Homo sapiens: one gene and its partner. The protein of the gene in region 1 binds, or shares a complex with, the protein of each later gene. Each region holds a gene or a part of one and is shown on either strand. Other genes may lie near its edges.

Region 1 (7,549 bases):
ATCCTATGAGGTGATTTTTTTTTTTTTTTTGAGATAAGGTCTTACTCTGTCACCTAAACTGGAGTGCAGTGGCATGATCACAGCTCACTGCAGCCTCGATCTCCCAGGCTCAAGCCATCCACCTGCCTCAGCCTCCCAAGTAGCTGAGATCAGAAGCATGCACCACCACACCTGGCTATTTTTTTTATTTTTTTGTAGAGACAAGGTCTTACTGTGTTGCCCAGGCTGATCTCAAACTCCTGAGCTCAAGCAATCCTCCTGCCTCAGCTTCTCAAAGTTCTGGGATTACAGGCATGAGCCATGGCACCTGACCAAGGTGAGTGTATTTAACCTCATTTTCAGGCAAGGAAACAAAAGACAGAAAAGTTAAGTAGCTTACTTAAGGTCACAGAGCTAAGTGTGGTGCCAGGATTGAAAACCTAGTTCTTTATTGCTTTAGCACAAGCTATTTCCACTATACTCTGTCATGTTCAGAGAATGTTGATGTCCATCAGTGGATTCTAAATTTTGAAGGATGGAGATACTGCCTTATTCTGTACATCTGCTTTAGCACCCAAGCTCTTGCTTGGTGAAAAATTAATAGTAAACATTCATCTTTTGAGCATCTTCAAATATCCCCTTTAGAATGACATTCAATTATTAGGTCAGTAACCCCAAGAGAAAACGGTTGTTTGAGTGTATATACTGTATTACAAAATAAGGGGTGAATTCAAAGGAAAACATAAGATGCAATTCGTGCCTCCAAGGAGGTTGTAGGGAAGAGGGGTTATGAATGTATGTAAATAGAAGTTGGTGTGCGTGTGTGTTTATAAACAGAATTGTCAGACCAAACATTATTTTGGAAGCAGTAAAAGTAAACTAGAATCTGGCCTAGTCATGTCCCAGGACACCTCTTTCAAGTCCTGAAACATCTTTGTAAGACTGTAATGTGTGTTTACATCCTAGGTAATCACTGTGGCCCACTGTTGAAGAGCTGTGGCTGTTCTTACCCTTCTAGCTTAGATAAACTTATAAGCACAACCAGACTACATATATGAAGCTGAAGAGACCTTGTCTTTTTTTAACGAGCTTTTCTTCCCGATAGGAGTGACTATTTCTTTTCTTCTTCCACATTTTCAGGTTTTAGTGTACTTGTGATTGCTACCCACTTATCACTATTAAAGTCTACTCAGGAGAGAATCTGAGAAACACTCTCAAATTAAGTTGAACATGATGGATAAGTAAAGTATTGTGAAAGTTCACTCTCATGATTTCTAATGGTGAAACCTGGCAGGGTGACTAATCTTTGACGAGAAGGTTATCACTTATAATCTTTCATATATTGAGATCATTTGTAAGAAGCACCCAGCACATTGCTGAACACAAAGTAGGTATTAAATAAATGTTGGCTTCCTTTTCTCCTACTCATCCTCGCTCTTCTTTTTAATATACCTTTAAAATGATGCCACAGAAATGGCCACCCAATCTTCTATATTTAAGGTCAGTTCTTGCATTAGGAAATTCTATAGGGGAAGTATGTGAAGTATGTGTAGTCAGTCATTAAATGCTTGGGCTCTGGCCACAGATTGTTTAGGTTTAAATCCCAGTTTCCTCTTTTATTATTAATTGTGCAACTTGCTTGGGAAAACATGAAACTTGTTTTTCCTCAGGTTCATTATCTGTAATATATAGTGAATGAAGAAGTTTCCTGTCCCATGAAGGTGTTGTAAAGATTAAAAAAGGCAAATTAGGCTGTGTATTTGTCATAATAATTGGCATATATGGTAAGTGACCAACAACCATAAGGTATTATAAAATTGTTATAAAATGATATGAGCTATCATTGAGCAGCATGAAAGAAGAGCTTCACTGTTTCACCTACTATCACCCTGGCCCATTAATCTCTTTCCTGTTCCTGACATTTCAGAGATACGTTTAGGATTTCAATCATGACCTTAAGCCACATTTGAACAATTTTCTGGTGGATAAGTCCTCATTCCCACATTATGTATGTACCTAGATGCAAATCCTGAATATCATGTCGCAATTAGTGCATCTGGACATGCTTGCTAACTGTGTTAAAGCTCTGAATAATGGTAAAGTTTTATTTCTACCAAAACAAATTTGGGCTGTAATGTTTTATGATAAAAATCTGTGGTCTTCCTATGTACATGTGTGTGTACATGCTTAAAATGCAATGTTATAGTTAAATGTAATTCATTAAAAGTATGTAACTCCAGTGGCTACTTAGTTTGGCTACTTGGTTTGTAGATTTCTGCTTTCCTGTTTCATTGTTAAACAGGTCTAGAAGTTATTATTTCATGAAACTAATGTGAGGAAAAAGACTATGTTGATATATAAGTGACATTATATAAATACATGAGGGATGATTTGATTAGAAGCAGTATTACACAGTGATAGGAGTAATGGTTTAGAACTAGACTCAGGTTTGAATCTTAGCTCTATCATTATAGGCATTTACTTAACTTTTCTTGTTTGCTTAACTGAAAACTGAAGATAATAACACCTATTTACATGGTTGTTATAAGGGTTATATGAATAATGTCTGGCAAATAGTAAGAACTCAAGTAACTGTTTCACTCTTTCCAGAAGGAGATTGGCTGAAAAATATTTGGAGTCTCCTCCAGCCATATTCCTTGGTCAGCTTCTATGATCCTCTTTGGAGCTTAATTCTTAATCCCTTTATTTTCACTTGCTTGTTGATAACAAAGAAGAACTAATTATTAATTTATTTCAAAATGCATGTATTATATTTGATGGGCCACACTAACAGTTATAAACCAAACAACAGATTGGGAATGGGGAAGTGGATGTGGTGAGTTCAATCACATGTCTGGGAAAAGTCAATAGTGAAGACAGAGTCTCACAATTTTTTGTCATAATGGAGAGATGAAAACACAGGTAGAGGATTTCAAACAACAGAGTGGATGGTGAGTTAAAAATGCTGAAATTCTTTCCTGGTGTCTAACTTAATGCAATGTGGTTTATCTCTTTGCTCTTTTCTCTACTATTCAAATTTAGGATAATAAAGATTAAATGTTTCTAAATCTTACTTTACAATATCAAGAAAAAAAGGTATGCTTTTGCCCACGGAAGGGCAAAGCAGAGCTATGAAAACCTGCTGAACACATTCTTTATTTTCAACACAGGTTCTTGTCTTTCCATCATGAAATGCACATTTTATTTGTACTGTATTTGGGTGACCACAAGTCAACAACAAGATAATTCACAAGACCCTTGCCTTAGATGTGTCGGCAATAAAGTAATCAGGCCAAAATTTTTACTTTCCTTTGAATTTTTCAATTCAAACACAATGTATGCTTGCTTTTACACAGTAGGGTTCAGGGATTAGAGGGTTGGCTCTTTAAAAACCGTCAGAGACACAGGCAATCCTACACAAAATTCTCAGAAGGAAGGCGCCTACGCCTGGGAATGCCCAGATGCCCCTCAGAGAGTTGAAGATGGCGTTTCTCTGAGTCAGGTCAAAGTTAACACATTACCTTCGCTTCAAAGACTGCTTGGCTTCCTTTCGGTGGATTAGTCAAGATGTTTTGCTGACTGAGACTAGGAAATCTATAGGAGGGCGGGTTAGTTTACATTGTTCCTTGTCATTATCGCTAAAACACTCCAAAGCCTTCCTTAAAAATGCGCACTGGGCTAAAAAGGATAGACAAGGAACACATCCTGGGCCGGTAATTACGCAAAGCATTATCTCCTCTTACCTCCTTGCAGATTTTTTTTTCTCTTTCAGTACGTGTCCTAAGATTTCTGTGCCACCCTTGGAGTTCACTCACCTAAACCTGAAACTAATAAAGCTTGGTTCTTTTCTCCGACACGCAAAGGAAGCGCTAAGGTAAATGCATCAGACCCACACTGCCGCGGAACTTTTCGGCTCTCTAAGGCTGTATTTTGATATACGAAAGGCACATTTTCCTTCCCTTTTCAAAATGCACCTTGCAAACGTAACAGGAACCCGACTAGGATCATCGGGAAAAGGAGGAGGAGGAGGAAGGCAGGCTCCGGGGAAGCTGGTGGCAGCGGGTCCTGGGTCTGGCGGACCCTGACGCGAAGGAGGGTCTAGGAAGCTCTCCGGGGAGCCGGTTCTCCCGCCGGTGGCTTCTTCTGTCCTCCAGCGTTGCCAACTGGACCTAAAGAGAGGCCGCGACTGTCGCCCACCTGCGGGATGGGCCTGGTGCTGGGCGGTAAGGACACGGACCTGGAAGGAGCGCGCGCGAGGGAGGGAGGCTGGGAGTCAGAATCGGGAAAGGGAGGTGCGGGGCGGCGAGGGAGCGAAGGAGGAGAGGAGGAAGGAGCGGGAGGGGTGCTGGCGGGGGTGCGTAGTGGGTGGAGAAAGCCGCTAGAGCAAATTTGGGGCCGGACCAGGCAGCACTCGGCTTTTAACCTGGGCAGTGAAGGCGGGGGAAAGAGCAAAAGGAAGGGGTGGTGTGCGGAGTAGGGGTGGGTGGGGGGAATTGGAAGCAAATGACATCACAGCAGGTCAGAGAAAAAGGGTTGAGCGGCAGGCACCCAGAGTAGTAGGTCTTTGGCATTAGGAGCTTGAGCCCAGACGGCCCTAGCAGGGACCCCAGCGCCCGAGAGACCATGCAGAGGTCGCCTCTGGAAAAGGCCAGCGTTGTCTCCAAACTTTTTTTCAGGTGAGAAGGTGGCCAACCGAGCTTCGGAAAGACACGTGCCCACGAAAGAGGAGGGCGTGTGTATGGGTTGGGTTTGGGGTAAAGGAATAAGCAGTTTTTAAAAAGATGCGCTATCATTCATTGTTTTGAAAGAAAATGTGGGTATTGTAGAATAAAACAGAAAGCATTAAGAAGAGATGGAAGAATGAACTGAAGCTGATTGAATAGAGAGCCACATCTACTTGCAACTGAAAAGTTAGAATCTCAAGACTCAAGTACGCTACTATGCACTTGTTTTATTTCATTTTTCTAAGAAACTAAAAATACTTGTTAATAAGTACCTAAGTATGGTTTATTGGTTTTCCCCCTTCATGCCTTGGACACTTGATTGTCTTCTTGGCACATACAGGTGCCATGCCTGCATATAGTAAGTGCTCAGAAAACATTTCTTGACTGAATTCAGCCAACAAAAATTTTGGGGTAGGTAGAAAATATATGCTTAAAGTATTTATTGTTATGAGACTGGATATATCTAGTATTTGTCACAGGTAAATGATTCTTCAAAAATTGAAAGCAAATTTGTTGAAATATTTATTTTGAAAAAAGTTACTTCACAAGCTATAAATTTTAAAAGCCATAGGAATAGATACCGAAGTTATATCCAACTGACATTTAATAAATTGTATTCATAGCCTAATGTGATGAGCCACAGAAGCTTGCAAACTTTAATGAGATTTTTTAAAATAGCATCTAAGTTCGGAATCTTAGGCAAAGTGTTGTTAGATGTAGCACTTCATATTTGAAGTGTTCTTTGGATATTGCATCTACTTTGTTCCTGTTATTATACTGGTGTGAATGAATGAATAGGTACTGCTCTCTCTTGGGACATTACTTGACACATAATTACCCAATGAATAAGCATACTGAGGTATCAAAAAAGTCAAATATGTTATAAATAGCTCATATATGTGTGTAGGGGGGAAGGAATTTAGCTTTCACATCTCTCTTATGTTTAGTTCTCTGCATGTGCAGTTAATCCTGGAACTCCGGTGCTAAGGAGAGACTGTTGGCCCTTGAAGGAGAGCTCCTCCCTGTGGATGAGAGAGAAGGACTTTACTCTTTGGAATTATCTTTTTGTGTTGATGTTATCCACCTTTTGTTACTCCACCTATAAAATCGGCTTATCTATTGATCTGTTTTCCTAGTCCTTATAAAGTCAAAATGTTAATTGGCATAAATTATAGACTTTTTTTAGCAGAGAACTTTGAGGAACCTAAATGCCAACCAGTCTAAAAATGCAGTTTTCAGAAGAATGAATATTTCATGGATAGTTCTAAATACTAATGAACTTTAAAATAGCTTACTATTGATCTGTCAAAGTGGGTTTTTATATAATTTTCTTTTTACAAATCACCTGACACATTTAATATAGGTTAAAAAATGCTATCAGGCTGGTTTGCAAAGAAAATGTATTACAAAGGCTGCTAAGTGTGTTAAGAGCATACTCATTTCTGTTCTCCAAAATATTTCATAAGGTGCTTTAAGAATAGGTATGTTTTTAAAAGTTAAGTTCCTACTATTTATAGGAACTGACAATCACCTAAAATACCAATGATTACAAACTTCCTTCTGGCCTTCTGGACTGCAATTCTAAAAGTGTAAAAAACATATTTTCTGCATTAAGTTAGGCAGTATTGCTTAGTTTTCAAAGTGGTAGGCTTTGGAGTCAGATTATTTTGATTCAGATCCTACATCTACTGTTTAGTAGCTCTGTTGCCTGAGGCAGGTCCCTTAACATCTCTGTGTGTGACTTGACCTTTAAAATTTGGAGACTGTCATAGGGGTTAATCCCTTGAGAAAATGAATGTGAAAAGTTAGCCTAATGTTAACTGCTATTATTATGGATTACCATATTTTCACATTCATCACAGTACATGCACCTTGTTAATATAAGATGCTCAATTCATCTTTGAGTATAATTTTGTGACTCTCAATCTGGATATGCAATGAGTGGGCCTGTATGAGAATTTAATTTATGAAAAATTGTGTTTCACATGGCCTTACCAGATATACAGGAAACACGTCACATGTTTCTATTGTATGTTGTTAAATGCCTTAGAATTTAACTTTCTGAATAGGATCCCTTCAGTTTGAGAGTCATAAAAGAGTAAAATTATTATGGTATGAGTTATAGATTGTATTGAATATCTCTTTATATGTCTAGGTTTTGTCATTGGAAAACCAAAAAGTTTGGAAAAAAAATCTAAGTTATTTCTTACTTTCTTAATTTTGTGTGGATTTCACATCAAGTATAAAATTTGAAGAACATCTGAACTATCATAATCCATATATATATATAAAATAAACATAATCTAAGAGAGAATTTCACCATGAAAAATTCAGGTAGTTCATGACTATCAGAGCAAACAAGTACATTAAATTGAAACTTTTATGAAAATAACATTTATGAAATAGGAAGCTATTTTTAAACTAGAAGTGATATATTAGCATATAATTTATAATTCATATACAAGTGGGATTGATTTATAAATGGTCACCAACAGAGATTGTGCTATTTAATTTGGGAAAATTTTTTAAATTTACATTTTCTCACAACTTTTAAGGTAGTTATTCAGTTTGTTCCTCTCTGTCTCTTCTCTCATGCCCTGAATTTTTCATATTTCGTTTAGTTGTAAGAGTGTATATCAAACCGTGTGTCACATGACATAACTTGAATTTTCGTCGTGATATCTGTGCTATGTCTAGGTCTATACTGAGGAACTGTGGGAACCCCACAGAATCCAAGTATACAGTGCCACTGATTTCTTACAAGGGATGTGGGGTCTCCTGTAAACTCTGCAGTTAGTCTCAAGTAAGACCAAAGAGTAAAATATTGTTAGGATCTAAGGTGGAAA
Region 2 (7,030 bases), on another chromosome or scaffold:
GTGCTTTTGGAGGCCAAAGCTGGAGCATCGCTTGAGACCAGGAGTTCAAGACCAGCCTGGGCAACATAGTAAGACCTTGTCTCTACAAAAAATAAAATATTAGCCAGGTGTGGTGGCTCATGCCTGTGGTCCCAGCTACTTGGGAGGCTGAGATGGGAGAATCGCTTGAGGCTAGGAGGCCAGGGATGCACTGAGCCATGACTGCATCACTGCACTCCAGCCTGGGTGACAGACACCCTGTCTCAAAACAAACAAAAAATTACTCTTCCTAAATTACCTCTAGTCTTGCCTTTGTCCTTACTCAGTAACTTCCAATGACTCCCTTTTGGCTACTCCATCAAATTTAAGCTCTACCTGGCTTTCAAATTCCTGATAAATTGTCTCCTCTTTACTTGTTTGGCTTTCTCATCCACTGTTCTCCAACATGTACCTTTCTCTCAGGCTGGCCAGCACCACATGCCCTATAAACACAATGCTCAAACGTGTCTGAAACTGCTTTTGTAGTTCCCTTCATCTAGAGTGCTCTCCTATTTACTGCCTGCCTATCTGAACTCCACCCATTCTTCTAGGGCTACAAACCCTTCCCTGACTGCCCTAGCCCTCACTGATTTACCTTGCCTATGACTCTGAATATACTTATAGCCTATTACATGGTCTAGGACTTCTTTATGCCATTCTGTGATACAGATGAGTACTGTACCACTTACAGCTTCACGTGTGTGCCCTCAAAGGAAAGCTTCATGTTTGTTTCACATTTAATGCTTATAACTGTGCTAAGCACAAAACTCATATGCAAATGAATATCAAGTTTTTCTACAAATCATTATTGGGAGAGCACAAGGAACACAGAGTACCTATATGTAGTATAGTCGGAAGGCAGCAGGACTGTGTGTCACAGCGCAATGTGCCACTATACAGCCATGTGAGCATGTTAAATCTCAGCCTTCCAATCCATAAAATGAAGATGGCATCTACCTCAGTAGAGTTGCTGTGAAGATGAGGCGCAGGGAATTAAAGAATACTAAATGTGGAAATCTTCCTTGAAAAATGCATAGTGCAAAATCAAACTGAAGTACTATTATTCTTCTCCACGACTATTACACTGTAGCAGCCCATAAAACCATAAGCTTGAATTTTCTTTTTAAATATACAATTTTGTGAGAAGGAAAAGCAAAAGTCTAGATTAATCTTGTACAGATAGTTAGTATGTTATGTTAAAATGGACATATATGTTAAATGTAACTGAAGTTTATCCATTAGTTTCTAATTGAATTTTCTAGTGATATGCCATGATGGTTTTTAATCAAGACCTACTGTTGTTCCAAGACTTTGAATGAGGTTCCCACTAAAAAAAAAGTCAGCAAGATACTCTTTATTTGTCTCCTAAAAAGTTTTTGAAAGACTATAGTCTCATCGTCAGGCCTGGCACCACTGCAGAAGCATCAAGATACTGGCGCAGGCAAACTCATTAGAGGCCACAAAAGGCCCAACCCTGCAGTAAGCCAAGAGATTTTCCTTGTGCTGGGCATATTTCAGGAAGAGACTGACGTGCTTGAGAACAGGAGCTCTCCAGCACACCTATATGATGATGATGGCTGTCAATCTGTTCTAAGCCACTGGATGCAGCAAGTCAGGACTGGGAAGCATTTGTTGATAAACGCAGAGATTGCTTAGTGAAAAAATGGAAGCAAATCTAAATATCCAACAATATGGGAATGGTTTAAAAAATAAGGAGACTGGCCAGGTGCACTGGCTTACGTGTGTAATCCCAGCACTTTGGGAGGCCAAGGCAGGCAGATCACCTGAAGTCAGGAGTTCGAGACCAGCGTGGCCAATGTGGTGAAACCCCGTTTCTACTAAAAATACAAAAAAATTAGCCGGGGTGGTGTATGACTGTAATCCCAGCTACTCGGGAGGCTGAGGCAGGATAATCACTTGAACCCAGGAGGTGGAGGTTGCAGTGAGCCGAAACTGCGCCACTACACTCCAGCCTGGGCGACAAGAGCGAAACTCCGTCTCAAAAAAAAAAAAAAAAAAAAAGGCAGGGGAGGGAAGGAGATAGATGGTACAAGATTACGTGGCCATCAAAAGAAGAGATTTAATGTCATGAAAAGATTTATTTAAGAGCAATGGGGGCTGGAGGGACGAGGCTGCACAATATTTTATTTCTGTAAAATATCCCCTAAAGAACAAACAAACCCGAACAGAAAGGTTACACCAAATGGTTAACACTGGTTCTGTCTCTGGGTAATAACATTATTATATCCTCATTTTCCTATCTTTTTAAATTTTCTTCAAGTATGTATTACTTTTTTAAAAATTGGGTACTATTTCTTTTTTTAAGAAAAAAAGTGTTTTTCTGTTTAAAGAGAAACCACTAGTGCAGATAAACAGCTATGAAAAATAATTCTAAAGGTACTCACAAAATAGGATTTTCTTCAAAGAAACAAAATCCTAAATCAGATAATAAATGCTGAAAATAGAGGATCTAGGAAACAGCCTAGCCCCTCTATCCCAATTCCTTCCCCAAGGGACATCTTTCTAGTCAGGGTCAAAATACTGAGAAGTTATTTCCCAGTGGCTAGAGCAGATATCCTAGGAGAAGAATCAAAAAAGAAAGAAAGAAAAGAAAAAGAAGACTACCTACTGCTAATCCATTTTTTTTTAAATAAAGGCAGTGCAAAGACAGAAAGGGTTGAAAATGACAGCTGTGGCCTTTAGAAGCACTGGCTTTCAGCTATGTTTTGTTTTCAAGGCAAAGAACATGCTCGATTCGAAAATAATAAGCTTTGAATTTAATAATTTGTTAGAAATTTCAGATGAAGACTCCATTATTATATGTCAGGAATTACCCAAGCTCTATACATATAAAATATACGGTGGGGTCTGCTTTTAGCAAGCCTTACATACACATCTGAGCTTCTAAAGAGAAAGTAGGTGATTTTTCTACATTTCCACATTATAACTTACCTGAATCTGTTTTCTCAGTGTTAAAAAGAGACATTAATAGCTATCAAATAAGATAATGAACATAAAATGCCCATATAGTGCTGGTTAGAGTAAAGGCTCATAAGCCATTCTTATTTTTTATTCTTAAGCTACCTCACAAAAATGTAACACATATAATCCAATGTGTGTTGAAATAACTAACAAAATGAAAAACTACCAAATTTCTAAGAACTCTTTGGATTATTCATTGAGAGGAATTTAAAAGAAAGCAGTGTAGTCCTCCCCTCAGAGAGCTTAAACTCTAGTGGTAGAAACACAAGAAAAGAGCACATGTATATCTATTACACATCAATTAAAAAAAAAAACAGCACACGTTTAAGGGTTACAATGCCTCTCCTTAGAAAGCCAACCAGACAGAACTAGAGGAAATAGGTTTAAAGGTAGCTAGGTCGTGACTTAAAAAGAGATGTTATTAATAAAGTGCATGTATGTTTTTCTAGATGAGATAAAAATCAAAGGCCAAAGCAGATAAAGAAATGAGAATAAGGAAGAAAACTGACAAGAAAATCTGAAAAATCTAGGCTCGAATGTTTCAATGGGGTAAGGAACTGATCACATATTCTGAACAGCATTCACAGATGTACCATTCCAGATAGAGCATCCACAGCACTGTACAGCAGAAGTTTTAGTTCTGGAGTCTCTCTGCTGAAGAAAAATCAGATGCCAAGCTACTGCAGAAGGGACTGAGAAAGTCAGTGGGACCAGGTGGTTAGTGGGTGTTACCCAGAAAAAGTTAAACACTCCTGGCTCTCAGAGAAAACTACTCACTAAAAAACACCCACTATAAAACTGTCTGTGTGCCATTCTACATATAAAATTTAGAGTCCTGTAATAAATTTAATTCCATTCAAACATTTGCAGGTTCTTTGTTAGGAAACAAAACACAGCATATCTGTAATACAAAGTCATTAGCACTAAGTCCAGTGAACACTGAATTTGGAGAGAAACTGCATTTCTATTATTTCAAAATCCCTTCCCTCTTTCACATCAGCTGTTGCATATCATTGCTAATTATGTCCAATTAGCCATGATTAAACTTACTGAGGGTGTTAAGTGACAGGCGCAAGGTTACACATGTGACTTAATGGTAGATATGACAATAAATTGACTTCTTGGCTTAAGTAATCAATCCAAAAGACACTATGTTAATTCTGATCCATAAAGACAGCCCAATTGGTTGACCTTATGAATAATTTCTACAGTTTGGGGCCCACTGACATAATGAAGCCTATCAGTCTGATTTACCAGTACCGCACACCAAGTCCACAGGCTATGTGACCTCTGTGAATTTGTTTTCTCATCCATAATACAGGCAAATCTGGGCTGGGCGTGGTGGCTCACGCCTGTAATCCCAGCACTCTGGGAGGCCGAGGAGGGTGATCACTTGAGGTCAGGAGTTCAAGACCAGCCTGGCCAACATGGTGAAACCCCGTCTCTACTAAATATATAAAAAAATTAGCCGGGTATAGTGGCAGGCGCCTGTAATCCCAGCTAATTGGGAGGCTGAGGCAGCCTGAAGGCAGAGGCTGCAGTGAGCTGAGATCACGCCACTGCACTCCAGCCTAGGCGACAGAGCAAGACTCTGTGAAGAAAAAAAAAAACATAGGCAAATCTACTTACTAGGGTTCCTGTAAGGAGTAAACCTGTTTATGATATAAAACAGTAAGCACTCAAATAAATGGCAACCACAGTACATTCCACACAAAACTTAAAAAACCAATGGTCAGCCAGTGAAGGGAAACTTACTATGTACCTCATTTATTTTACACGTACTCTGCTTTCTTTAAAGACTTTTAAAAGAAAGGCACATAACAATTTCCCTATGCTTATTTCTAAAATGGCCCTTATCACAGTTTACTGCAATGCAAGTGTCTCTGCTGGCTCCCACACCGGATTGTGAGCTTAAAGTAGGAATCCAGCCAGGCGTGGTGGCTCACGCCTGTAATCCCAGCACTTTGGGAGGCCGAGGCAGGTGGATCGCAAGGTCAGGAGTTCAAGACCAGCCTGGCCAAGATGGCGAAACCCTGTCTCTACTAAAAATACAAAAATTAGCTGGGCGCAGTGGCAGGCGCCTGTAATCCCAGCTACTCAGGAGGCTGAGGCAGGAGAATTGCTTGAACCCGGGCTTCAGAGGTTGCAGTGAGCCAAGATCGTGCCACTGCACTCCAGCCTGGGTGACAGAGTGAGACTCCATCTCACAAAAAAAAAAAAAAAAAAAAAAAAAAGTAGGAATCCAGACTTGTATCTTTGGACACCCAATGTGGAGTACAAGGCCTAGCACACTGAGTGACTGCTTGATCAACTGATGCATTCTTAAAAAGTGAAAAAGCAATTATTTCCTACGTGGACAGAGGAAGGTAGCACACATCTGACCTATAAAATACAGACTGTTTTTATTGTCTTAGACTACTTTTTGAAAAAAGCCAGCCAGCTCTCATCAGGAGCAACACTATACATTTTGACTAATATTTTTCAGCTACCAATCATTGTATTTATAGATTCAAACTGACTTTCAACAAGCCTTTGGATTACTTTCTGTCCATCTCCTCCATTCAGAAGTCCAATCAGTTCGCTATACAAAAAGTTCACTATACAGAAACCCAAACCAGCTAACTCGTTTAGTAAATAACAAAAATATCCATCCATCATTTATGGCCTGCAAAGCACTCAGGGATTCCTAGAAACGCATTTGATCCTAAGTATCCTATGAGGCAGGTGACATTGTCCCGTTTTATAAATGCAAAGAGTTAACTCATTCAGGGTCACACAGCTATATATGGCAGATCTGGGATCTAAACCAACATTAATTTTAAAATTAATGCTCTTTCCTTTATGTAACCCTATCTCCTAAAGATCAATTATGAACTCCAATGCTCACTTAAGGAAAAGAGAGAATTGTCAACTTTTAAAAGAACTATACAAGGTTGTTACAGTGAAATTTTAAAACTGGCCTATTAAGCTAATGTTATCTAGCTTTAAAAATAAAAACAAAATCAAGGAGTTAAAAACAGCATAAAAACATGCCAAAGACTTACCAAAATGTCAAACAAATTTTAAAGGAAAGCTCTTAGCTGAGGGCAAATAATAATAATAGACAGGACTCATATCTACTTTATTGTAGCCTTCAATCTTCTTGTCCTGGTCAAGGCCATTCAGAAATAACCTCCTGTTGGTTCTTTTAGGGAAAACAATAAAATAAACTAACCAGTACGGGAAAAACTTACATAATAAAGAACTGGCCAGAATTTAAAAAAAAAAAAAAAGTTAACTAACCTACAATCTGCTAGGAATGACTTGAGGCCACTGATCATTTACATCTCATTACAAGTATCAGATACATATAACCACACCTCTATTAGAAAATCTTTTAGTTGAGAAAGCAGTAAGATGATTGGCCTTCAGCACACATATCATGAGACAGAAAGCACTTTTAGTCTGTTTCCTCAAGTATTCCCCTTAGAAAAATTCCCTCAGAATCCAGCTCCAACCGTTAGTTTCTCCATCATGCAATACAGATGACTGCTAAGATCATATTCACATAGAGATCAAAAGGATTCTAAAGCTTAAAGGTTGCTATTATGTAACCATAATTTCTTGCCCCTTAACTAGTGAATTGTCATCTTTCCCTAGAAAAATGTAGAAACAAGGAACTTAAAAGTATCTCTACAAGGAAATTTTAGTTCATTCTCTAAGGTACCAGCATTTAAAGGAAAACTCAGTTTGTTGACACCGAAAGAGCAGGTAGCACAACAGGATGTTTTAATTTAGAAGTTTCTCTCTATTTACGTAGATATATTTCCTCATTTCCTCCCTGCCAACAAAATGAGAAAAATCTGAACATCTACTGATGAAGTCGTAAGATAAACAAAAATTAATGGTCACAATCAAATTCTATTAGATGAAGAACCTAAAATTCTATGCCAAAGTAACTGATGACTTTCTCCCTAGTATGAAGCAAGTACTAGAAAAACTGGATTGTTCACAAGCTTGCTTCCTGATGCATGCTAGCAATTATCATCCC

The links. Proteins that work in one complex are often made in the same cells at the same time.
Region 2: the proteins of CFTR (region 1) and YWHAB are in contact, whole or in part, in a crystal structure (PDB 6HEP), measured with the Homo sapiens proteins. Residues at the interface, in NP_000483.3 of Homo sapiens: Arg764, Arg765, Arg766, Gln767, Ser768, Val769, Leu770, Asn771, Leu772, Met773; in NP_003395.1 of Homo sapiens: Arg43, Asn44, Ser47, Val48, Lys51, Arg58, Arg62, Phe119, Lys122, Arg129, Tyr130, Glu133, His166, Pro167, Ile168, Gly171, Leu174, Asn175, Val178, Glu182, Ile219, Leu222, Asp225, Asn226, Leu229, Trp230.

What each region holds. Positions count from the first base shown.
Region 1 is NC_000007.14:117,475,493-117,483,041, forward strand, and holds the start of CFTR (cystic fibrosis transmembrane conductance regulator), read left to right. Parts: upstream 1-4,532; 5' UTR 4,533-4,602; coding exon 4,603-4,655; intron 4,656-7,549. UniProt on the Homo sapiens protein: Epithelial ion channel that plays an important role in the regulation of epithelial ion and water transport and fluid homeostasis. Mediates the transport of chloride ions across the cell membrane.
Region 2 is NC_000020.11:44,888,705-44,895,734, reverse strand, and holds part of YWHAB (14-3-3 protein beta/alpha), read right to left. Parts: intron 1-7,030. UniProt on the Homo sapiens protein: Adapter protein implicated in the regulation of a large spectrum of both general and specialized signaling pathways. Binds to a large number of partners, usually by recognition of a phosphoserine or phosphothreonine motif.